4 linked regions of the Homo sapiens genome follow. The protein of the gene in region 2 interacts with the protein of the main gene of each other region in a pairwise test. Each region holds a gene or a part of one and is shown on either strand. Other genes may lie near its edges. The genes, in order: NDRG4, RTN3, CDIPT and PTPN9.

Region 1 (4,009 bases), on a different chromosome or scaffold from region 2:
CTGTGGGAAGGCTGGGGAGGACACCCAGGAATAGAATGCTCTCTGGAGCAGGGCAGAGCCCTAGGGCCCACAGGGAGGCTCCGCAGGAGCACAGAGTCTGGAATCAGGGCACAGCAAGCATTTGCGAGGTGAACGGAAGAACATTGTCAGGCGCTGAGACGCGTTCTCAGGGTCCTGGGGAGAAACTCCACCAGGCAGCCCCAAGCTGGGAAGGGCACAGAGCGGGCAGGCCTCCCCCATTCTGTATGCAGGAGACTGAGGCCTAGGAGAATGGTGAGGGGATAAGCACCCCACCTGTCAGGGCTTCCTTGGGCCAGAGATCCTTCTGGGGGCCACTGCTGGGTGGGCAGGCAGGAGTGGGCTTCCAGAAGCCTCTGGCCCTGCCCCCAGCCTCTCTGTGCCTGTCCTTTGTCCCATCTCTCTGGCTCATCTCAATGCCCTTGACTCAGCGGACCACGCTCTTCACTGTGTTGTGTCTCCCCCATCCCCGCCCCCTCTCCGGCTCTGTCTTCTCTCTTAGTTGCGTACTTGAAGGACCGAAGGCTGAGTGGAGGAGCAGGTAGCCCCACGGCCCTTCCCCTGATGCATGGACGCCCAGCCTCCTCCTCCCCCGCTCCTTCCTCTGCGCAGTGTGCTGCAGCCAGGCCGCATCTTGCTGTGGTTTGGAACCTTCTTGTGTCCTGTTCAACTCAGAAACCCCACAGATTCTTGCTTTTCTGCAGGCTTGGCCTCTAGGTTGGCTGGGTTGCAGAGCAGTCTTGCTTCTAGGTTGTCATGAGCTGCGTGGCTTCCAGAGCTCTGGGGATAGGAAACAGACCCTCCTTAGAGGTAGAGCCCAGGCCTGGCCCTGCCTGAGCCACATAGGTGGCCAGGAGAGTTCCGGAGGGTAGAGTTTGCTGCCCGCAAGTCTTGCTTGTGAAACTCTGAATTAGGGAATTAGGGCACAGTCTGAATTGAGGGCAGTATGCGACCACCGCTCCGCGTCCTCCTTTACAGAAACAGTCCTACTTCTCCACTGGCATCCTCTTGAGGGAGGCACGGCTGGAAACCCAGCACCTCCCTGCACCAGCTCAGGGCTGCCTGGTCAGCTGCTGGCCGCAGCCCCCTAGGCCCACTCACTGTCGCCGGCCCTGCATGCCCCCAGCCCGACAGCTGTCGCCAGCCTCCTGACTCAGGAGGAGCCCTTTGTGCCTTCGAGGAACGGTTCGCTGGCCGCTTTGCTTGCAGCCTACTTTTCCCACCAGAGGCACCTGGCCCTGCCCGCCAGTCCTCAGGCCCATCCTGTCTCTGTCCACAGTGCCCTCAGCCAGCATGACCCGCCTGGCACGCTCCCGCACTGCATCCCTCACCAGTGCCAGCTCGGTGGATGGCAGCCGCCCACAGGCCTGCACCCACTCAGAGAGCAGCGAGGGGCTGGGCCAGGTCAACCACACCATGGAGGTGTCCTGTTGAAGCCCTTGATCCCGCTGACGACGCCCACGTCGAGGCCCCACCGCCATCCTTGCGCCGGCTCATGTTCCCTTTAGTTTATTTTTGTGAGGGCAAAGGGGAGGAAATGGGGTTCTGTTTGAAAAAAATGAGGGGATCTTAGATGCTGCAGCAGAACAGTCTCCAGGTGTTTTAAGGGGCTCAGTCCTCCTCATCCCATCTCACTCTCCGTGGTAACTTAGCCAACTTGACCCCTCTCATCCCACTCCCGGCGGCCCAGGCACAGAAGGGCAGGGCCATAGGGAGGGAGATTCGCTACGGATCCAGGCCATTCCTGGGTGAGCCCTTGGGCAGGCATGTTTGGAGATGAGAGAGGCTTCGAGAGGGTGGGTGCTGGGCCACAGGGGTGCGGGGCCAGCTCAGGCACTGGCGTGGGAGCCCTGGGAGACCCCTTCCCCCACCCTCCACCAAGCACACCTGTTTCTGTCTCATAGCACATGTGACAATCATCTGGACAACAGCCACAAGGGGGCGCTCGGACCAGGCAGCCACTTTCCTGGTGCTCTCTGGGCCCAGCTGGTGCTGTAGGGCCACGCAGGCAGGGGCGTCAAGGGGTTTCTCTGCCCAAGGAAGACAGAACATGGAGAACCGTCAGGGCAGGAACCCCACAGACTGTCCCTTCCAGCCCACACTCTGCCACCTCCTGGCCCTGTCCCAATTCTGAGCCAAGGCCTCCCCGAGGCAGAAGTTGCCTGGTCCTCTGTCCCCACAGTGACCTGACTGGGGGTGAGGGAGAAGGAGGAGAGAGCCCATGTGTGGTGTGTGTGCCCCTGAGAACTTCGTGGTGACTGCCTTTGGGAGCCCGCAGGTGGCCAGAGGCAGGGGTAGCTGAGTTCCTGGAGACCCCTTTTTTGCCCCCAGGTTCCCCAGAGGGCAACGCCATCAGTAGCAGTGTGGTGTTTCAGGCAGAGCTCTGGCCAGGCTGTGCCAGTGTGTCCCGGACGCATCACTAAGGAAGAGAGAGTTTATTTAGTCAACTGGCCCAAGGCAGCGAGGCTTCTACAGTCCCACACCCCATAGCCGCCTGGGCTGGGGCTTACTGGGGGCTGAAGGTTCTGGACATGAACAAGGGTCAGGTAGAAGAGAAAGGCTTCCCCTACACCCCAGCCTCCTGCTGTCCCCTGAAGCCCAGGACTGCGTTGTATGCTTTCCATCCACTCACCTTACCCCATAGCATCTTGCGGCCCAGAAACCAGAGCCATTTGTCTCAGACCCTAAATCAATAATCACAAACCCCAAAACGGGAGAGAGCAGTGAAAACATGCAGGGCTGTGGACGGGGGAAGGGTTGTGGCGGGTGTTCTGAGGCTGAGAGGACACCTATATGCGTATTTCCTCTACACACATCACCCCCCTTCTATAATCTTAAGCCATGACTAGCCTGGTGGCGTGTTAGTTTCTGCCCAGTTCTACCCCCTCATGTGCTTCTTCTGAATACTGAATGTGACTGTTTGAAAGCTGGTAGAATTCATCCCTCTTACTGTAGATAACACTGCAAATCTTGGAATTTTGTTTTTTGCTGTTTCCAGATGTATCTATAAATATCTATACATTATATGTGTGTGTGTGTGTGTGTGTGTGTGTGTACATCGGGTCCTCCCATGTGTGGTGTTCTTCTGGAGGTTGTCTCTTTGGTCAAGGTGAACTTTTAATGTTTATTATTTTCTTCTCCGCACAAAGTAAAGAGCCTAATTTTGTGTATTCTGGTGGCTGCTGTCATGAGATGATAAAATGTAAAACAAAACTCTAGTCAACGTAGAAAGAGTTAACTGTGCTGAAAAACTAATAAAGAACCTAAGAAGAATTCCAGTGTGGTGATGCCATGCCCATCATGGGAGGCTTTTGGAGAAACAGAATGTTTGGGCAGGGGCTGCTGGTGCTGCTTGGGTTTTGGGTTGAGGGTGCTAGGAGAGGATGGTCTCCACCCATCTTTCTATTTCCAGTACACGTCACATTATTTTACCGGTGAGATGAGAATGTCACAAACATTAAAAGCCTTATGTGCTCATTTCTGCTTATGTGCTCATTTCTCCCCTGACTCTGTGACAAAATACAGCTCTCCTCAGCCAGGCACGGTGGCTCAAGCCTGTAATCTCAGCACTTTGGGAGGCTGAGGCGGGCAGATCACTTGAGGCCAGCAGTTCGAGACCAGCCTGGGCAACATGGTGAAACCCCGTCTCTACTAAAAATACAAAAATTAGCTGAGCATGGTGGCGCGTGCCTGTAATACCAGCTACTCGGGAGGCTGAGGCAGGAGAATCGCTTGAACCTAGGAGGCAGAGGTGGTAGTGAGTGGAGATCGTGCCACTGCACTCCAGCCTGGATGACAGAGCAAGACTCTGCCTCAAAATAAAACAAAAAAACAAAATACAGCTCTCCAGAAAAAAATGCCTTAAAGACAAAACAAAACACCCCTGCCCTCCAAATCTCTTGCCTGAGTCACTACATTCCTTCAAAGATAAATGACCTACTCTTTGCCTTCTCCTAAACATACGATCATGTCTGACAGGGTTAATGATTAT
Region 2 (7,416 bases):
CCTGGAGTTATTTTATTTTTCAAGATGAGGTCTCGCTATATTGTCCAGGCTGGTCTTGAACTCTTGGGCCCAAGCCATCCTCCTGCCTTGGCCTCTCAAAGTGTAGGGATTACAGAGGTGAGCCACCATGACAGCCAGGGAGCACTTTAAAAATTCCATCTTGGGCCGGGCGCGGTGGCTCACGCCTGTAATCCCAGGACTTTGGGAGGCTGAGGCAGGCAGATCACGAGGTCAGGAGTACAAGACCAGCCTAGCCAACATGGTGAAACCTCGTCTCTACTAAAAATATAAAAATTAGCCAGGCATGGTGGCATGGGCCTGTAGTCCCAGCTACTCGGGAAGCTGAGGCAGAAGAATCACTTGAACCCAGGAGGTGGAGGGTGCAGTCAGCTGAGATCATGCCACTGCACTCCAGCCTGGGTGACAGAGTGAGACTCCATCTCAAAAAAAAAAAAAATCCCATCTTGGACAAAAAAAAGGAAAAAAAAAATCCCAGCTGAGCCATTTCCCACCAAAAACTTCCACTCAATCCCCATTATTCTTAAGACAAAGCCTCAGTTCTTTGGTTCAATACTACTGCTTCTCCAAAAACTGGCCCCAACATATCTTCCTCATTTTAGATGTTATCCCTATATCTTCCCTCCTGTCCTAATTCAAGCCTTCAGCTCCAGCCAATTTGGTCTAACCAACACCCAAGACACCTTATACACGCTCACGTCTGAGCCTTTAGCCACCACATATGGCTGTACAGTCTGAGTGTTACACCAAGGCAGCTTGTGGAGACAAGGGGCAAGAGGGGATCAAATCTAGGTGAGGTTCTGCTAGCCAAATCAGCATGGAACTGTATCATGGGTGGGGCTGGGAGAAAGAGGTTCTTTTTTGTGATTCATCTGCCCAGAAGAGTACTTTTTTTGTATACATTCACAAAAGCAACCCCTGTATTTGCTTCATACCATCCTTTTCTGCTTTTAATGACTTCCTTACAATTCCAAACACCTATCTAACTTTGAGCATCTTCACAAAACCTCCTGGCTGGGCGCAGTGGCTCACGCCTGTAATCCCAGCACTTTGGGAGGCCGAGGCAGGCAGATCACGAGGTCAGGACATCGAGACCATCCTGGCTAACACAGTGAAACCCCGTCTCTACTAAAAATACAAAAAATTAGCCAGGCACGGTGGCACGCACCTGTAGTCCCAGCTACTCGGGAGGCTGAGGCAGGAGAATCACTTAAACCTGGGAGGCAGAGGTTGCAGTGAGCCGAGATCGCACCACTGCACTCCAGCCTGGGTGACAGAAAAAAAAAAAAAACCTCCCTAAGCCACTACAACTTCATGGTAATTCCTTCCCCTCGTTGTTTTTGTTTTTGTTTTTGTTTTTGTTTGAGGTGGAGTCTCACTGTGTTGCCCAGGCTGGAGTGCAGTGGCATGATCTTGGCTCATTGCAACCTCTGCCTCCCAGGCTCAGGTGATTCTCGTGCCTCAGCCTCCCGAGTAGCTGGGATTACAGGTACACACCACTATGCCTGGGTAATTTTGTATTTTCAGTAGAGATGGGGTTTCTCCATGTTGGCCAGACTAGTCTCAAACTTTTGACCTCAGGTGATCCGCCTACCTTGCCCTCCCAAAGTGCTGGGATTACAGGCGTGAGCCACTGCGCCTGGCCCCTCTCTTTTAAATTCATTTAATTTACTTGCCATCTAATCAAAGCACTATGGTTTTATGGTGTTTGGGGTTGTTTTTAGTTGCTATTTAATTTATATTATTTAACTTTATGTGAGTATGTTTTTTGTCCTAACTAGCTTGTAAGCTCATTGAAGACAAGACTAACATATTTTGGAGGTCTCTTCAAAGTTCCCAGAATTGTGTTATACACACAGCACATGATCAATACACATTCATAGAACTGGCCGGGCACAGTGGCTCACGCCTATAATCCCAGGTGTGGGAAACTGAGGCAGGAGGATCACCCGAGGTCAGGAGTTCAAGACCACCCTGGCCAACATGGTGAAACCCCGCCTCTACTAAAAATACAAAAATTAGCCGGACATGGAGGCATGTGCCTGTAATCCCAGCTACTCAGGAGGCTGAACCAGAACTGCTTGAACCCGGGAGGCGGAGGTTGCAGTGAGCCAAGATGGCACTACTGCACTCCAGCCTGGGCAATAGAGCAAGACTCCATCTCAAAAAAAAAAATGTCTGAAGGGTCTGAAAAGACCAGTAAGACCACGTGCATATCTTGCTTTTTAACTTCTCTGCTGCTACATATTAGGAAAATGGACTTCCTTCCAGCTGGAGTCTCCAGATTGTAGCAAGTGCTGTCAGAGTTAGCTACCAGCATCATTTATTTCCTTATCTAGCACTTAATAATGTAGATTTTTGTTTGTTTGTTTTGTTTTAAGGAGCAGAGCGTTTAATAGACAAGAAAGAAGGAAGGAAGAAGAAAACAGCTCCCCTAATAATGCGATTTTTAAAAAAACATATGCACGTATCAGAATGGGTAGATAACTGGCTTGGTTATCCGATCTGCTATTATTTCCCTTTGCCATCCAAGAGACAGTTTGCTGCATTATCAGCTGATGCAGTAAGTGCCAGGGTAAGGTATTAGCCACAAAGTTATTTTGGGAAATATTTTTCTATGCCTTTTTCAGAGCATTGCAAAGGCCAGGAGTCATCCTCCCACCCCCTGGGGCTTTACCTGACCTTAAAAACTCAAGGGCAGATGTAGTACACAGCTTGTTCTAGAAGATTTCCACTGGTCAGATCGCCTTTCCCCTCAGTGGCAGCTTGGCTGACCACCTCCCGCTTCATGAGGCTGCATCTTTACAGGATCTGCTGATCCTGCAATTGTACTTTGGGTCATCGATTGCTGCTTTAGCAGTAACAGTCGACAGCCTTGATTTTTATTATTTCCAGGATACAGTCCTCCTTTTTTTTTTTTTATTTGACGGAGATTTGCTCTTTCACCCAAGCTGGAGTGCAATGGTGAGATCTCTGCTCACTGCAACCTCTGCCTCCCGAGTTCAAGCAATTCTCCTGCCTCAGCCTCCCGAGTAGTTGGGATTACAGGCGCCCGCCACTACCCCCAGCTAATTTTTGTATTTTTAGTAGAGACAGGGTTTCACCACATTGGCCAGGCTGTTCTTGAACTCCTGACATCAGATGATCCACCTGCCTCGGCCTCCCAAAGTGCTGGGATTACAGGTGTGAGCCACCGCGCCCAGCCAACAGTCCTCCTTTAACAAAGACTATGCACCTTTCCAATATTTTGACCAGATGTAGGGAGAAGGCTTCGAATTTGGCAATCCAGCCCAGGAAAAGCAAAAAATGAACAAAATCCAATATAGGCTAGAAATCTGGTTTTAAATACATGTTCTGCTAAGGACCTCTTTTAGTCTATGAATAAAATTCAATTATGTGTATTTTGTGCCTTATTCTGATTTTTTTTACTTTTTTTTTTTTTTTTAAGGCAGGAAGGTTCTCGCTGTGTGGCCCAGGCTGGACTCCAACTCCTGGGCTCAAGTGATCCTCCCTTCTCTGCCGTAGCAGAGACTACGGGCCTCTGCCACTGACTGCGGCCTTATTCTGAATTTTTAATATCTAATTTTATCATCCCCCATAATCACAGCCAACATTTTCTTATCTCCTGGCTCTTCTTCATCAGCTCAGCATTTTTTTTCCCTCTCTAAAATATGTCGTCTCTATCTGACAGTCTATTCGGAGGAAAAGAGAACCTTAAGACCCAAGGTGGACCCTTCTCTGGCAACAGTAACGAGATAAGAATACGAAGCAGGTTCTGCGACTGCATTGCAATGTGATTGGAATGAGTAATCGTTTTTCATTCTGTATAGCATCTTTCTCCACCTACCAAATGGGGGGCCGTGCCATCTCTGCCTCTCGGTGAGGAGATATTACGACACAGCCAGTGAGATTCACAAAGCACCTTGCAGAGTGGGCCTACTCTACACTCTGGTTTTCAGTTTTTATTGGAGTCACAGGTGGGAATGCATCAAACAAAAGATATAGGCTCTGGAATGTACGGGAAAGAGAGTTTCCATAATGGAAGCCCAAAGACATTTCTACCGTTAAAATACATAATCTGCCGACCCTAAAACATTCACATAAAGAGGCAGGAGGGAATACTATCCCGCAGCTCCACGATTAGCCGCAGTCGTGGGCGGGGATTGGGGCTTGGATACGCCTTTTGCGTCTGGTCCCCAAGGGACGCTCCCCAACCCTCGGCGCGCGAGGCGCCGCGTGAGGCCGGCTTTGCCCCTCCTTCCCTGCAAGAGCGCAGAGGAGCGGTTCTTGCGCCTGCGCCCTGCGCCGCTGCGCGCTTTGGCACCCGCTTGGGGCCCTTTGTGCGCATGCGCGCTCGCGCTCCCGCCCTCTAGCTGCGCTCGGCTGAGTCAGTCAGTCTGTCGGAGTCTGTCCTCGGAGCAGGCGGAGTAAAGGGACTTGAGCGAGCCAGTTGCCGGATTATTCTATTTCCCCTCCCTCTCTCCCGCCCCGTATCTCTTTTCACCCTTCTCCCACCCTCGCTCGCGTAGCCATGGCGGAGCCGTCGGCGGCCACTCAGTCCCATTCCATCTCCTCGTCGTCCTTCGGAGCCGAGCCGTCCGCGCCCGGCGGCGGCGGGAGCCCAGGAGCCTGCCCCGCCCTGGGGACGAAGAGCTGCAGCTCCTCCTGTGCGGGTAAGGCGCGCGGGGAGCCCCCGCCCTGGGAAAGAGGGCGAGCGGGAGCCTGGGGGCTGGGGGGATTAGGAGGCGAGGCGGGAGGAGGACGAATTACCCTCGACTACTGACGGCTTCAGCCCCCCGGGGACGAGCGTTTGGAAAATGGGCAAAGGGGAAGGGGAACGTAAGGTTGTGCAGGCGGTGAGGAAATAGCGGGGTGTGAGGAAAACAGGTTGGGGGCGGGGAGATAGTCCAGTGGGCGTTAACGCCAAGACTGGGCAGGTGGGGAAAAATACCAGCTCGTGGGATAAAATGGAGAGTTGCTCGATGCATATGGTGAACCTGGGTGATTTAGTGAGGATTAGAGAGATTGAAAGGATACGGGCAGGTGGGTGGTGGGAGAAACAATTTGTTACTATTTTTGAGGGGATGGTGGTGAAAGGGTTGCATTGCAGGTTTGCAGACAGGTGTTGACATAATCAAGCATTCATGATAGTCCTCCAAAATATTTTTGGCTGCCCATGGGAAGGATGAGGAAGTTTAATGGAAGCATTGTAGCCTGTTTTTTTTGTTTGTTTGTTTTGTTTTTACTGTTTTCGGCTAGACTCCATGAATGCCGGATTTTTCTGAGGCTCCGAGGTAGAAGGAGGCGTGATGAGAATAGCTCAGGGAAGATTTGGGAGGGAGCTGCTAATGGTCCAAGATGGATCCGTGGCTGCATCTGCAACAGCCTGCTCTTCCCTGGCGCTGCGTGGGGGTGGGGACACGCAATCAGTCGCTTATATTCTAGAAAATAGAGTCATGCTAAGCTATCAACATGTTTTGATTTCATGTTTTCTGTGGGCTACTATTGATCGAAGTATAACAAAGGGGGGTGTTTATTGCAGAAAGGGGGAGGGGGAGAACATTCAGACAAAGCAAGGGCTGGTTGAGTCCCCTTCTCCCATCTCTGTGAAAGACTAAGAACGAAGCTGCAGACCTCCTTTAGTTTGCATTGTATACGCGTCTGCCTGCTGGTAAGAGCTGCCTGGCAAGCTCCCCTTATGCAGAAATCTGCAGTGCAGATGCCTTCTTAAGGGGGGAAAAAAAAACCACCATGGGCAGGTGGTAGTTCTCAAAGGAACGGAGTCTTTGAAGGGAAAAAAAATGCCTTTTGTCAAAGGCAGGGCCGTAAATTCGGGAGAGTAGAGATAATTTTGCTCTCTATTTAGTTATGTTAAAGGATTTTGATCATTTTTTTTTAATGCTTCGTTGTCTCCTTTGGCAGAATCTTGGGTTCTAAAGAAAAAATTTCTGATCTTAACCTTAAATGTATTATTCTCTACGTGTTTTTCTAGCAGTGAATTTTCACCTGTCTGAGAGCTTTGGAGCCCTGTTGGATTTTTTCAGTGTGGTTATGGCCATTTCAGTAGAAACAGGCAGTATCAGGAAGCTTTTGCAGATAAAAGAATGAGGCAGCAAATTTAGAACCCTGTCTCCTTTAAACCACCAGCCTTTTCTCCAAATTTTTGTGTTCTGGGCTAAGGTCCAGATGAACAGCGACTTCCTTATAACTTAGCAACTTGATCTTTTTGCTTTAATCACTTGTCATTGCTTACTGTTTGGTAGGCCCTTTTGTACTTACCTTTTGGGTTTTCTTGATTTTTCATTTTTGATTCAGACCTAAGTTTTAGAAATTTGGCTCTGTAAGCTCAAGATAAGACAGATGTTAAGTGTTGAAGAGTCATTTTAGTTAGCAGATTTGAAAATTTAGTCCTAGTTTGTTTATAACTAAATGGTGAAATCATTTGAGATTCAACTTTTTCATTCTTTTAATGCACTTATGGAAGAACTGGCCTAGTAGGCCAATGAAATAAGAGTATTTTGTTCACAGACACACAGGCATACCACAACCTAATTGGCACCTAAATTGGCAATACGAATTTAATGACATAACATATTTCTGTTTGGCTTACCTTTTTTTATGTCATCTACCCTTGTCACAATTTTTATCTATTTATTGTGTATTTTTTGCACTTCTCTTTATAATAGTGGAAAAGGTGCTGAAATTATGTGTTTTGTCGAAAGTAGTAGAATTATATCGTGAAGTGCTGTTCCAAGTACATGAGTTTGCATTACATTTTCCGAATAATATTAAATGCCGCGGTTTCCACTCGTTATTTCTTTCTCTTTTCTTTTCTTTCTTTTTTTTTTTTTTTTTTTTTTTTTTTTTAGACAAGGTCTTGCTCTGTCACAGACTGGAGTGCAGTGGAGCCATCTTGGCTCACTGCAACCTCCATCTCCGGGGTTCAAATGATTCTCATGCTTCAGCCACCCGAGTAGCTGGAATTACAGGCGTGTGCCACCACGCGTGGTTAATTTTCTTTTGGTTTTTTTTTTTTTTTTTTTTTTTTTGGTTTTTTTTTTGAGACGGAGTCTCGCTTTGTCGCCCAGGCTGGAGTGCAGTGGTGCGATCTCAGCTCACTGCAACCTCCATCTCCCAGGTTCATGCCATTCTCCTGCCTCAGCTTCCCAGTAGCTGGGACTACAGGTGCCCACCACCATGCCCGGCTAATTTTTTGTATTTTTAGTAGAAACAGGGTTTCACAGTGTTAGCCAGGATGGTCTTGATCTCCTGACCTCGTGATCCGCCCACCTCGGCCTCCCAAAATGCTGGGAATACAGGCATGAGCCACCACACACGGCCCACACCTGGTTAATTTTTATATCTTTGGTAGAGATGGGGTTTTGCCATGTTGGCCAG
Region 3 (7,025 bases), on a different chromosome or scaffold from region 2:
TCCCAAAGCGCTGGGATTACAGGCATGAGCCACCATGCCCAGCCATTATCTTTTTAAAAATCCTTCCAGAGGCTGCCTGTGTTCCTGGAATCAAGTCCACACTCCAGCCCTGCAGACCTCTCTGGCTTATCTCCCTTCCCGCTTTCAGTCCCTTCTCTTTGCAGGCCTCATTCCCACTTGTTCCCTGGAGTAATTCACACAGGCCTTCCCCACCAATCCTCCTCCTCCACGCCTCAGCTTACGGGCCCTCCTCCTGGAGTGACTGGGCAGGCCCTGCTCTGCGCCCTCGCCTTCTCCTAGGCTAGGACCAGGATTCAGCCCAGGGCTTCCCACAGCCAAGAGCCTGAGGGGTGGGGTGTGCAGGAAATGCTTACCCTCGAGGTGTAGTAGATCCGAAGCACCGGATTCCCGGACAAGTCGATCATCTTGTGACTCTCACTGCCTCGGACCACAGAACTTGGGGAGAAAACAGGGGAACCCACAAGGTTTCATGACCACTACCATGCATCCAATCCTCATGTTAACACCTATTGTACAGATGGAAAACTGGGCACGGCTAAGGACCAGTATCCTGCCGAAAGCCACAGTTACCTATTTGGGGGCAGAGTCAGGATTCAAATGCCACATTTGAAAGCTCCCATGCCCCTTCCTATAAGCTGTCACCTATATGGAATCCTAGAATACCCAGCCAGAAGAGTCCTAAGAATTGCTTAATGCAACTGTAAACATGACTGAAGCTTTAAAGAGAGGCAGGTTTGCCTGGGGTCTTTCTACAAAGCAGAGCTAAAAAGGAGCCCTTCCAGGATGCCTAGTGCCATCCCAGACACCCTTCCGTCTAGGCTCAGCCCACCCCACTGTAATGTCTCCAAGTGGCCCAGGCCCCCAGAATCGCAGCAGACCTGTGGAGGTGCAGCCAGTGACTGGCCACATCCAAACTCATGCTGATTTGGAAGAACAGCGTGGCTCCAGGGTACAGCAGGGCCAGGTTGACCAACAGGCACATGGTGGAGCAGCGGTCCGTCAGCATGTCCAGCATGGCCCCAAACCGGGTTCCTGGAAGATTAGGTGGGCAAGGGCTGTTATGGCACAGTGGATGCAGGACAGGTGCCCATATTTGGTTTATCACTCTGACGCAGGGTGTAAACGAAGACTGGAAGTGTCCGCCTGCCTGGGGAGGAACGCAGGCTAGAAAACAGGCTGTGTGTGAGGTCAGTGGGCAAAGGTCACCATGGCATGAACTGAGAAAGGCATGAGAGTGGAGGGAACAGGGTAGGAGGAGAGGAAAGCTATGTCTGCAACTCATCAACCCCAGAACCAAGACTCCAGGGCTAGATAGAGACTTGATGCCTCAGGGGAAGCCTTACAGTTGGGTCTGGAGAACAGATTAAAAAATTAGTCAACCCTCCAGAAGCCATCACCCTTCCCTCTCCATCCTCCCTCTAAGCATGCCTTCTGGAACCCCAACTGCTTATGCAGGGCACACAGTAGGCCTCCAGTAAACACCTGTTGAATACACTGTTTTTTGTTTTTTGTTTTTTTTTTTCCGAGACAGAGTCTTGCTCTGTCGCCCAGGCTGGAGTGCAATGGCGCAATCTTGGCTCACTGCAACCTCCGCCTCCCGGGTTCAAGCAATTCTCCTGCCTTAGCCTCCCGAGTAGCTGGGATTACAGGCACGCGTCACCAAGCCCGCTAATTTTTGTATTTTTAGTAGAGACAGGGTTTCACCATGTTGGCCAGGCTGGTCTCGAACTCCTGAACTCGTGATCCACCCACCTCGGCCTCCCAAAGTGCTGGGATTACAGGCGTGAGCCACCGCCCCTGGCCTGAATGGACTTGTATTCAGAGAGACCTCCAGCAGCGCCACCGCCATGTCATGTCTTGCTAATCCACACCTCTCACAAGCAGTGAGTTCTCAAGAGCTAGCTTAAATTCCTTTTGCTACAAAATCAGTCCATTCTTGCTGGGCGCGGCACTTTGGGAGCAAGGCAGGAGGATCGCTTGAGGCTAGGAGCTGGGGACCAATCTGGGCGACACTGCAAGACCCAGTCTCTACAAAAATTTAAAAATTAGCCGGGTGTGGTGGCACGCTCCTGTAGTCCCAGCTAGTCAGGAGGCTGAGGTGGGAGGATTACTTGAGCCCAGAAGATGGGGGCTGCAGTGAGCCATGATCGCGCCACTGCACTCCAGCCTAAGTGACAGAGCGAGACCCTGTCTCAAAAACAAAAAAACAAAACACAAAACAAAAAGCCCCAGGCCATCCTGTTCTGCTTTTTCCAGAGATGGGAATGACAGCCCTCTGACTCTGAGGTCCCGAGGAGGCAGGGGAAGGGAGGAGGGGATTGTTGAACCCCAAGGCTGGCTGAGAGGGGTGTCTGTCACCTTGATTAAGAGCGCGAGCAGCGTGTCCATCGAAAGCGTCCAGCAGGCCGCTGAGCAGGTAGAAGGAGGAGGCCGTGAGGGGGCAGCAGGGCATGAAGTAGAAAGAAATGATGGCGAAGACAATCCGGGCATAACCTTGGAACGGGACGCGGGGAGACAGGGCAGGATCAGGGAGCCCGCCAAGGCCCCTCGCCCTCTCGTTCGGCCCGGGGCCGTGGGCAGCACTCACCGATGAGGTTGGGCACGAACAGGAAGATATTTTCGTCTGGCATCGCGGCGCCTCCCTTGCTGCCCCGGGCCTGCTCTGGAGATGCCAGTGCTGTCCCAGCCCCGCAGCGCGGCCTCAGCCTCCGGCCCGGCGCATCGGCCGCACCACCTGCGCCCTGGACCCCGCCGCCCCAACCTGGCCCCAGATGCTGAAGCCCGCAGCCGTCGGGAGCATGGACCGGCCCCGAGGTGCGCGGGACGCAGGGGGCGCGCGCAGTCCGCCCTTCCTACCCGCAACCTCCCTCGCCTCTGCCAGCCCCGCAGGCGCTCCGGGCCTCCAGCTGCGGTCGCCGCTGCTCCAGCTGCGCGTGGCTTCCGGGAACCTCCTCCTCCGCGCCCGTCGTTGCAAAATTGGAGAGAGGAAAAAGTGGCTTAAAAAAATAGTTGCGGCCCCTTTAAGGCCTGTCGGCTTCCTTTCCCTTTTCCTCCCTCCGCCCCTCTCCCTTGGCTCGTACCAAAGCGCAGAGGAGGAGAGGGAGGAAGGAACCATTAACGTCAAGCAAAGTTAGAAACGGAAAAGGAAAGGGTAAAAGAGAAGACCGAATAAAAATCTCTGCTTTCCTTTTGTGGAGGGTATGACTTCCTGGAGGCAAAGATAAGGCGATAAAATTCCTCCTCCTGAGTCTTTGCGTCCCCAAGAGGCCAGGAGATTTGGTGCAGTCCTCACTTTACTCCCCGCCCCCTAAGTCTCCAGCCGCCTTTGCTCTCGCAGGCTCTAGGCGGCTAGAGAGGCTCCAGAGCGCCCTGCAGATGGGTTGCTTTTCGCGTGCCCCTTGTGATGGGAGGATTAGGTCGCAGGCTCCACCCTACGTCATCCTCCCAAGCTTCTCAAGCGTCTGGCGCTTGGGGTCACTGCCCTCAAGGAGGCACCTGGAGGGGTACGGAGGGGAGGCTGGAGGAGCAAACGGGGCGCGCTAGGAAATTCCTCTGTCTTTAGTTCTAGAACCCCTGATCTCCTAGCAACGAGGCTGCGGAACCTCTGCAGACTCCAAGGGTTTTATAGCGTCCGGTAGCGACACGGAGCCGGCTCCCCCTTTTCCAGCCTTCCTCCCCATCTCCCATTCTCCATCCCCCACGACCTATACCAGAGGTCCTTAGGCCTCCACGTCTCTCCTTTTGCCGAGTAGCCCAAGGTTTCCACCCATCTGCCAGGTCTGGGGCGTCAAGTCGGCTGCCTCGGCTTGGGAAGGTGCTTGGGAGGGAAGAAGGAAGGAGAGGCCCACCAGGCGAAGGGGTGAGGGGTAGGGGGTTGCGGGAGTTCCCTCTCACTCCCGAAGATATAAAGCAACCTTTATTATTATTATTATTTTTTCTTGTGAGAGGGAATGAGGCAGCGGGATGTTTCCTCTAAAGGCCTTGTTTAAACCTGGGCCCGGGGAATGGTGGTGGACTGGGTTCTGGGGGAAAGCGGGCTGGTTTCTCAGGTCAACTCAGGCTTCGACTGTTCCCAGGGGGATGGCGTCCACTCCGATGGGGAATGAGGGGGAGAAGAAGAGCAGCTGGCCATCTCAAGCTGCACCCTCCTTGAGAGGAGGTCCGGTGAGCACTGCAGGGAACCCTAGAGGTGGGAATGTAATGAAGTGAAAGCCTCCCAGGCAGAGGCACCCCGTGCCAGGTCTGAGCCACGGGCCCTGAGACTCTAGCCTCAACCCTGAGTCCTGAAGCCCCGACTCATAGCTCTCAGCACTAGGCCCTGACTCTAAACCCCCACCAAACCCCCCTCCCCCAGGTCCAGAGCTTTCTAGCTAAATCTCAAGGCCCAGTCCTTCAGGAGCAAGCTCCTTGGACCCACAGGCCCCAGCCTGGGAACTCCCACAGCCAGCACTCCCATGTGGGAGCTCCCAGGCTGAACCCCTCCGGCTTTTCCTTTCCCAGGCTTCGTTATCTCGTTCTGAGGAATACCTGTCCCAGATCAGTGCAGAACTCATGGAGGAGGCTTTGTGCACTGCTTGCTGCCACTTGAACCCTGTGCCCATCAAAAAAAAGCAGTCACAAGACCAAGCGACTCAGATATCCAAACGCGGTAACCCCCTGCCTCAGGACCACCGTGTCTAGAGAACCGCTGCCCCCACTATGCCTGGTTACAGTCCCTGACCCCTCCCACCCCTAGCTGAACTCTCCAGGAGTCTGTGCCCATCTCATCCATCTCACAGCCAGCCCTAGGACCTGTGAAATGCCCCTCTCACCCGCTAACCCAGTACCCACTCCTCACTGCTGGCCGAGAATCCCCTTAGCCCCGTCTGCCCTGGCCGCATCTCTTCTGGCCACGGGGATAGTCCTTTCTCTGACTAGGTCCTCTACTTCCAGCATTCTTCACCAAGACCTGAGGCACAGACACCTGGTGAGTGAGGCTTCAAGGGAGATGCTCTTTGTCCTGGGAGAGAGGTGAGGAACCTGGAGGGGAGAGAGTGAGGGTTTCACAATATCCCAGCAGGGTGGGGGAATTTTTGAACCGTGCACTTCCATTCTATTCTGCCCTGATCCTCAAATTCTGAATTCTCAGCCCTCTCCCCTCTCTTCCACCATCTCCTGCTCGGACAGAAACCGTACCTGCAGCAAGGCATACCTCCTGCCAACTCCTGGTGAAAAGGTACATGCAGGGTCCATGGCTGCCAAGGCTATTCGATATTAACCAAACCTTTTGAGTTTGCACTATATGTTGGTCCCTGTCTTAGGAGCTTGGGACACTGAAATGAATGGTACAGTCTCAGCCCTTGAAGAGTTCACAGTTCAGTGTGGGGACAGACAAGGAAATGGCCAATTATAATACAGTCTGGATAAGTTTCCATAATAGAAATGGACACAGTGGGATAGTACTCTTATCCCAGCTTCAATTGGACAGGAAGGACAGGAGCCATGGAGCTTCTTCTTTTTTTTTTTGAGACGGAGTCTTGCTCTGTTGCCCAGGCTGGAGTGCAGTGGTGTGATCTCAGCTCACTGCAAGCTCCACCTCCTGGGTTCACGCCATTCTCCTGCCTCAGCCTCCCAAGTAGCTGGGACTACAGGCACCCGCCACCACACCCGACTAATTTTTTTGTATTTTTAGTAGAGACGGGGTTTCACCGTGTTAGCCAGGATGGTCTTGATCTCCTGACCTCATGATCCGCCCTCCTTGGCCTCCCATAGTGTTGGGATTACAGGCTTTGGAGCTTCTTGAAGGAGGTAGCACCTAAAGAAATAATTTTCCACCAGGTGCAGTGGCTCACACCTGTAATCCCAGCATTTTTGGGAGGCTGAGGTGGGCTGATCACTTCAGGGCAGGAGTTTGAGACCAGCCTGGTCAACATGGTGACAGAGGTTGCAGTGAGCTGAGATCATACCACTGCACTCCAGCCTGGGCGACAGTGAGACCATCTCAAAAAAAAAAAGAAATAATTTTCCAGGTTAAAAAAAAAAGAGGTTAGTAGGAGTCTTTCAAGCAGTTGGGGTTGCATGAACAAAGGCAAAGAGCAGTCTTCGCAGAGCCAGTGTGAGCATCTGTGTGTATTTAGGGCAGGGAGAAGCAGTTTAGCAGCTGGAGTCTACAGGCAAGGTAAGAGGGGACTCAAGAGACTTTATGTGCCTTGTTTAGAGCCTTACACACTTTCCTGGCTGGGTGTGGTCGCTTATGCCTGTAATCCCAGCACTTTGGGAAGCTGAAGCAGGAGGATCGCTTGCGTCCAGGAGTTTGAGACCAGCCTGGGCAACATGGTGATACCCCAGGCATGATGGCATGTGCCTGTGATCCCAGTTACTTGGGAGGTGGGAGGATCGCTTGAGCCCAGGAGTTCAAGAATAGCCTGGGCAACATAGAGAGACCCCATCTCTATAAAAAGTTAAAAAAATTAGCCAGGTGTGGTGGCACGAACCTGTGGTCTCAGCTACTTGAGAGGCGGAGGCCAGAGGATCACTTGAGCCTAGGAGGTTGAGGCTGCAGTGAACCATGTTCATGCCACCGCATTCCAGCCTGAGTGACAGTGCAAGACCCTGTCTCAAAAAGAAAAATTTAAAAAAAAGAAAAGAAAGAAAGAAATAGTAGGAGGAGCTGGGTGCGGTGGCTCATACCTGTAATCCCAGCACTTTGGGAGGCCAAGGCGGGTGGATCATGAGGTCAGGAGTTCAAGATCAGCCTGGCCAACATAGTGAAACCTTGTCTTAACTAAAAATACAAACGTTAGGTCAGGCGCGGTGGCTCACACCTGTAATCTCAGCACTTTGGGAGGCCCAGGCGGGCAGATCACCTGAGGTCAGGAGTTTGAGACCAGCCTGGCCAACATGGGGAAACCCTGTCTCTACTAAAAATACAAAAATTAGCTGGGTTGGTGGTATGCACCTCTAATCCCAGCTACTCAGGAGGCTGAGGCAGGAGAATCGCTTGAACCCAGGAGTTGGAGGTTGCA
Region 4 (7,032 bases), on a different chromosome or scaffold from region 2:
TCATCATACTCCTGGCCTCAGGTGATCCACCCGCCTTGGCCTCCCAAAGTGTTGGGATCACAGGTGTGAGCCACTGCACACAGCCAGAAGTACCCTTTTGTTTTTTAACTGAGTCTTGCTCTGTTGCCAGGCTGAAGTGTAGCGTTGTGATCTCGGCTCACTGCAAACTCTGCCTCCCTGATTCAAGCGATTCTCCTGCCTCAGCCTCCCAAGTAGCTGTGACTTCAGGCGTGCGTGCCACCATGCCCAGCTAAGTTTTGTATTTTTACTAGAGACGGGGTTTCACCATGTTGGAGGATGGTCTCGATTTCTTGACCTCGTGATCCACCCGCCTTGGCCTCCCAAAATGCTGGGATTACAGGCCTGGGCCGCTGTGCCCAGCCAAGAGTACTCTTTTTTTTTTTTTTTTTTTTTTTGAGATGGAGTCTTGCTCTGTTGCCCAGGCTGGAGTGCAGTGGCGCAATCTCGGCTCACTGCAAGCTCCACCTCCTGGGTTCATGCCATTCTTCTGTCTCAGCCTCCCGAGTAGCTGGGACTACAGGCGCCCGCCACCACGCCTGGCTAATTTTTCATATTTTTAGTAGAGACGGGGTTTCCCCATGTTAGCCAGGATGGTCTCGATCTCCTGACCTCATGATCCACCCGCCTTGGCCTCCCAAAGTGCTGGGATTACAGGCGTGAACCACCGCGCCCAGCCAAGGGTACTCTTAAGATTTATTTAAAATATTAAAATTAAACAGCAGTACATAAGTGTTAGCCTTATCAAAGTGGTCCTCATGGGAACTGACACATTCACTCCGTAATGCTGCCCTATTGCTCAAACCAATTTAACATTTATTTGGAGTTGATTTAGAAGCTTGTGGCAGAATCTTTGAAATTTCTTCAGTGTAGGAAAATCCTTGTACTTTTGAGAGTCAGTTTGATTTCTGTAAATAGCAAAAAATCTTTTAGAGCCTTATTTAAAGTAGGGGATCAAATTCGGTTTACACATTTTCATGCAAAAGTGTAGTGCAGTTAGGCCCTTTTTGGCCTGTGTGAACAGCCTTAAAGATATTTCTTTTCGGCCGGGCGCGGTGGCTCACGCCTGTAATCCCAGCACTTTGGGAGGCAGAGGCGGGCGGATCATGAGGTCAGGAGATCGAGACCATCCTGGCTAACACAGTGAAACCCCGCCTCTACTAAAAATACAAAAAATTAGCCGGGCGTCGTGGCGGGCGCCTGTAGTCCCAGCTACTCGGGAGGCTGAGGCAGGAGAATGGCGTGAACCCGGGAGGCGGAGCTTGCAGTGAGCCGAGATCCCGCCGACAGAGCGAGACTCCGTCTCCTCTGTCTCAAAAAAAAAAAAAAAAAAAGATATTTCTTTTCTTTCTTTCTTTTTTTTTTTTTTTTTTTGAGACAGAGTTTTGCTCTTGTTGCCCAGGCTGGAATGCAATGGCGTGATCTTGGCTCATTGCAACCTCTGCCTCCCGGGTTCGAGCAATTCTCTTGCTTCAGCCACCCTAGTAGCTGGGATTACAGGCGCCCGCCACCACACCCAGCTAAGTTTTTGTATTTTTAGTAGAGATGGGGTTTCACTACATTAGCTAGGCTGGTCTCGAACTCCTGACCTCAGGCAATTCACCCACCTCAGCCTCCCAAAGTGCTGGGATTACAGGCGTGAGCCACCGCGCCTGGCTCCTTAAAAATATTTCTGAAGCAGAATACCTCCTGAGTGGTATCTCCTTCTGTACAGTCATATGAATCAGAAACCCAGAAGTCTTGGACACTGCTGTCCCTCTGCCCTTGTGTACAATACAGTGTTAGATTTTCCTGAATATCTCTTGAATTCATTGGCTTCCTTCCACCATCACTGCCATCACCCTATTCGAAGCTACTATCCTATCCTGACAGGACTTTTGTTTCCCACCTGGTCCATCCATATTCCAGAATCCAGAAGCCAGAGTCCTGTTGAAAATCTGATTTCATCTTCCCCTCAGCCTGCCTGCCCCGCAAAGAAGCATTCATAAAACTCTTTAGTGGCTTCTGGTTGCCTTTTTTTTTTTTTTTTGTGGAGACAGGATCTCACTTTGTCACCCAGGCTGGAGTCCAGTGGTGTAATCACGGCTCATTACAGCCTCAACCTCCTGGGTTCAAGCCGTCCTCCTGCCTCAGCCTCCCAAAGCCTTAGGATTACAGGCCTTGTCATTGCTCTTGAGATCAAATTGCAACTTTTGAATGTAGGCTATATATCTAGGCCCTTGAGCAGCCTAGGCCCTAGCTAGTTCTCACACTTGTCTCTGCTCCATGCACACTGGCCTTATAGTCCTGCCTTCTTTCCTTGTTTCCTCCTGCTTACAGGGTCTTTGCAGGAGCTGCTTTCCTCCATCTGGAAACACCCCCCTTTGTTAACCTCCTCTTCATCCTTCAGCTCTCAGGTTTCACCTCCTTGGAAGGCCTTCCTTGATTTCAGTTAGATTAGATTCTAACCTAATAGGTTCTCAGAGCACCATTTACCTGTCATTCACATCACTTATCACAAGTTAACACTTATTTGTGTGATTACATGACTGCAAGCAAGCTCTATGAGGGTTGGGATTATTTTCGCTTTTGCTCCCCATCATATGCACATTGCCTAGCATAATGACTGACATAATGACTGGCACTTACGGAAATACTTGCAGAATGAATGAAGAGTAGTTGTACTCTTGATTTGTATACAGGCAGCATCATCTTCTTTCAGAGTGGCTTAAAAATAAGCACATTACATATTTTGATTTTTTTCCCCATCAAATGGCAATATATACTTTGATTTATATGCTGTGTATGCATTGATATAGTTTTTGAAAGTCATGATTACTTAGTCTCATTTTCTGTCTAGGCATGTGTTGAACGGATACAAATCCTCATTTGTAACTTTGGTGTTTCTTGTTTTTCAGCTCCTCAATAATTATAAAGCCTACAATTGGGCTACGAGGACAAATATGATGTTTTTGCTTTTAAGGAGCTTATATGAATAACAATCGTAACAGTATCTTTTCTAAACTCCTGCTTTCAGTCAGGCTCTGTGGTGGGCATTTCACATGCAATTAATCGTCCCTCCCAAGATTGGAATTACTACCCTCACTTTGCAAATAAGAAAACTCAGACTGAGAGAAGGAAATTGCCCAAGGTCACATAGTTAACAAGTGATGTAGCCATGATTTCCACCCAGGTCTAGGTTTTCTGCCTTCACTGCCAGTGTTTCCTCTTTTACACTACATTACTTCCCATGAAGCCATTAGCCAATTTACTTAGGTGCCTAAGTGGGTATAAAATAGCTAATTTTGTGGGTTTTGGTATTGATATATGTGTTTGGTTTTGTTAATGCTTCTTAAAATATAGTTTGAAAAGTACAGATGAAAAGATACAGAAAACCTTTACTCAGCTGTGTATTGCCAGAGGAAACATACTGTATACTCTGTGCAAGAAATTATGATGAAATTACTATAGGAAAAAAATTTGTTCCTTAAAACAGAGTTGTCAACTCTCCATTTCAAGGTGTGGTCACAACTACAATAAAATTTTATTTTCTTTATATCTTCTTGTTCTTTTGCACAAGAAGGCTTGTGAAAGCCTTTCTTTTTCTTTCTTTCTTTTTTTCTTTTTTTTTGAGACAGAGTCTCGCTCTGTCGCCCAGGCTGGAGCGCAGTCTCAGCCCACTGCAACCTCCGCCTTCTGGGTTCAAGCGATTCTCCTGTCTCAGCCTCTCGAGTAGCTGGGACTACAGGCATGCACCATCACACCCGACTAATTTTTGTATTTTCTTTTTAGTAGAGATGGGGTTTCACCATGTTGGCTAGTCTGGTCTCCAACTCCTGATCTCAAGTGATCAGCCTGCCTTGGCCTCCCCAAGTGCTCGGATTACAGGCATGAGCCACCATGCCTGGCCGTAAAAGCCTTTCTTAATGGGCTGGCAGTTTGGCAGTGTGAAGGACAATTTCTACATATAAGTATTAATCTTCATTGTCATTATGTTATTGTGTTTTGAGACGGAGTCTTGCTTTGTTGCCCAGGCTGTGGGCAGTGGCACGATCTCAGCTCACTGCAACCTTTGCCTCCTGGGTTCAAGCGATTCTCATGCCTTGGCCTCCCGAGTAGCTGGGATTACAGGCACCTGCCACCACGCCTGGCTTATTTTTGTATTTTTAGTAGAGATGGGATTTCACCATGTTGCCCATGCTGGTCTTGAACTCTTGACCTTAGGTAATCCACGTGCCTCAGCAGCCCAAAGTGCTGGGATTACAGGTGTGAGCCATCTCACCCTGCCAAGACTCTTAACTAGAACTCTCACTAGATTAAAATTCTGTATAATTATAGCTGTTCAGGGTATTTTGGTTTTGCATGGATATCCCAGTGATGATTGATAGGATAATAGAGTAGTTTTCGAAAGTACTTATGTTTCTGTTAATAGTTTTATTTTTATTTTTTATTTAGTTTTTTGAGACGGAGTCTTGCTCTGTCACCAGGCTGGAGCACAATGGCACAACCTCCACCTCCTGTGTTCAAGCGATTCTCCTACCTCAGCCTCCCAAGCAGCTGGGACTGCTGGCATGCACCACCATGCCTGGCCAATTTTTATATTTTAGTAGAGATGGGGTTTCACCATGTTGGCCATGATGGTCTCTATATCCTGACCTCGTGATCCACCTGCCTCTGCCTCCCAAAGTGCTGGGATTACAAGCGTGAGCCACCACCAATTTATTTTATTTCATTTTTTAAATAATAGAGATAAGGTGTCACTATGTTGCCCAGGCTGGTCTTGAACTCCAGGGCTCAAGCAGTCTACCCACCTTGGCCTCCCAAAATGCTGGGAGTACAGGCGTGAGCCACCACGCCCAGCCTGAAAATTATTATTATTTTTGTTTCTTTTTTTATTTTAATTTTATGTTTTTTCTTTTTTTGAAAATTCTTAAAGTTTATGTTATTTAGACCTTACAATGTTGTGAGGATTAATAAGGAGATGCATGTAGAGCACTTAGCCCAATGCTTATATAATAAGTAGTCAGAAAAGTTAGCCATTATTATGATATTCATCATTGTTTTTTGTTTTTTTCTTTTTGAGACAGTCTTGTTCTGTCACCTAGACTAGAGTGCAGTGGCATGATCTCGGCTCACTGCAACCGCCGCCTCCCGGGTTCAAGCAATTCTCCTGCCTCAGCCTCCCTAGTAGCTGGGATTACAGGTGCCCGCCACCATACCTGGCTAATTTTTGTATTTTTAGTAGAGACGGGGTTTCGCCATGTTGGCCAGGCTGGTCTCAAACTCCTGACCTCAGGTGATCAACCTGCCTTGGTCTCCCAGAGTGCTGGGATTACAGGCATGAGCTACCGTGCCCGTCCTCATCGTTTTTGAATAGCGAAAAATTTTAGAACCATGTTAGCTTAAGCCAATTACAAGGGGAAAAAATATTCATATCCACCCTGGGGACCATCACCTAGTACAGGTTCTTATGAATTCCAGAAAATTATTATCTTGCATTTTTATAGTGTAGTTTTTAAAAGCCTATTCTAATTGTATGGTGTGGTTTTTGCTTTTTTTTTTGGAGACAGGATCTTACTCTGTCACCCAGGCTGGAATGCAGTGGCATGATCATAACTCATTGCAGCCTCGACCTCCCAGCCTCCCAGGATCAAGTGATCCTTCCACCTCGCCTCCCGGGTTCCTGGGACTACAGGCATGCTACCACACATGACTAATTTGTTATATTTTTTGTAGAGGGGGGTTTTACCATGTTGCCCAGGCTGGTCACGAACTCCTAAGCTCAAGCAATCCTCCTGCCTCGGCCTCCCAAAGTGTTGGGATTACAGGCATGAGCCACTGTGCCCAGTCTGGTTTGGATTTTTGTAATGGAATCTTTTAAAGCTAAAAATTTAACTGCTTTAGCGTGGACTTCAGAGATCTTTGGCATTTTTCCCAAAGGCAAGGGTTTTGTCCCATTTCTTGCGGCCAAGAACTTCCCTTTTCCCACAGTCTTACATGTCCTGTGCTAAATGTCATCTGTCTCCCTGGAAGTTACCATACGTCAAGGACCAAATGATTTATGATGTTAAATTGAGGTCTTCTACAGAGACAAAGAAGGAAGGAAAGGTGAAGAACTCTTATTATTTTCATTATTGCTGATAGTTTATGATACTGTAAGTAACAATTAGGTAAAACCTCATTTGGATGTGAGAATTTTGCTGTATTAAAAATTTCTGGTTGGGTGTGGTGTGGCTCATGCCTGTAATCCCAGCACTTTGGGAGGCCGAGGCGGGTGGATCACAAGGTCAAGAGATCAAGACCATCCTGGCCAACATGATGAAATCCCGTCTCTAGTAAAGATACAAAAATTAGCTGGGAGTGGTGGCGCTCACCTGTAGTCCCAGCTACTCGGGAGGCTGAGGCAGGAGAATTGCTTGAACCGGGAGGCAGGGGTTGCTGTGAGCTGAGATCGCGCCACTGCCCTCCAGCCTGGTGACAAAGCGAGAATCCATCTCAAAAAAAAAATTCTGAGCACAAGGGTCTTGGACTTTAGTTTTGTGAATATTAAGTGGCCTGGAGGTTTTCTCTAAGGAACCCAACCTAGTACTTATGAATGAATTGAAAAGACCCTCCTTTAGAAAGGAGCTGAACTGTTTTTTTTTTTTTTTTTTTGAGATGGAGTTTCACTCTTGTCACTATCTCCGCTCACTGCAACCTCCGCCTCCTGGGTTCAAGCGATTTTCCAGCCTCAGCCTCCCAAGTAGCTGGGATTACAGGTGCCCGCCACCACGCCCAGCTAATTTTTGTATTTTTTGTAGAGATGGGGTTTCAGCTTATTGGCCAGGCTGCTCTTGAACTCCTGACCTCAGGTGATCAGCCCGCCTCGGCCTCTCAAAGTGCTGGGATTACAGGCGTGAGCCACCATGCCTGGCCAGGAGCTAAACTGTTTTAAAGAGGTAAAAGTTAAGACTCATTGTGAGTATATTTTAGTTTCATTTTCTGACTTTTATGCCTTTATTGTCTTGGAAAAGACATAGTAATTTTGGAGTACTT

The links.
Region 1: the proteins of RTN3 (region 2) and NDRG4 interact in binary tests that used the Homo sapiens proteins (3 or more experiments, as listed by UniProt).
Region 3: the proteins of RTN3 (region 2) and CDIPT interact in binary tests that used the Homo sapiens proteins (3 or more experiments, as listed by UniProt).
Region 4: the proteins of RTN3 (region 2) and PTPN9 interact in binary tests that used the Homo sapiens proteins (3 or more experiments, as listed by UniProt).

What each region holds. Positions count from the first base shown.
Region 1 is NC_000016.10:58,510,125-58,514,133, forward strand, and holds the end of NDRG4 (protein NDRG4), read left to right. Parts: intron 1-520; coding exon 521-559; intron 560-1,297; coding exon 1,298-1,452; 3' UTR 1,453-3,495; downstream 3,496-4,009. UniProt on the Homo sapiens protein: Contributes to the maintenance of intracerebral BDNF levels within the normal range, which is necessary for the preservation of spatial learning and the resistance to neuronal cell death caused by ischemic stress.
Region 2 is NC_000011.10:63,677,088-63,684,503, forward strand, and holds the start of RTN3 (reticulon-3), read left to right. Parts: upstream 1-4,412; 5' UTR 4,413-4,549; coding exon 4,550-4,691; intron 4,692-7,416. UniProt on the Homo sapiens protein: May be involved in membrane trafficking in the early secretory pathway. Inhibits BACE1 activity and amyloid precursor protein processing. May induce caspase-8 cascade and apoptosis.
Region 3 is NC_000016.10:29,860,207-29,867,231, forward strand, and holds the start of CDIPT (CDP-diacylglycerol--inositol 3-phosphatidyltransferase), read right to left. Parts: upstream 3,021-7,025; 5' UTR 2,652-3,020; coding exon 2,609-2,651; intron 2,515-2,608; coding exon 2,380-2,514; intron 1,054-2,379; coding exon 900-1,053; intron 457-899; coding exon 375-456; intron 1-374. UniProt on the Homo sapiens protein: Catalyzes the biosynthesis of phosphatidylinositol (PtdIns) as well as PtdIns:inositol exchange reaction. May thus act to reduce an excessive cellular PtdIns content.
Region 4 is NC_000015.10:75,569,303-75,576,334, reverse strand, and holds part of PTPN9 (tyrosine-protein phosphatase non-receptor type 9), read left to right. Parts: intron 1-7,032. UniProt on the Homo sapiens protein: Protein-tyrosine phosphatase that could participate in the transfer of hydrophobic ligands or in functions of the Golgi apparatus.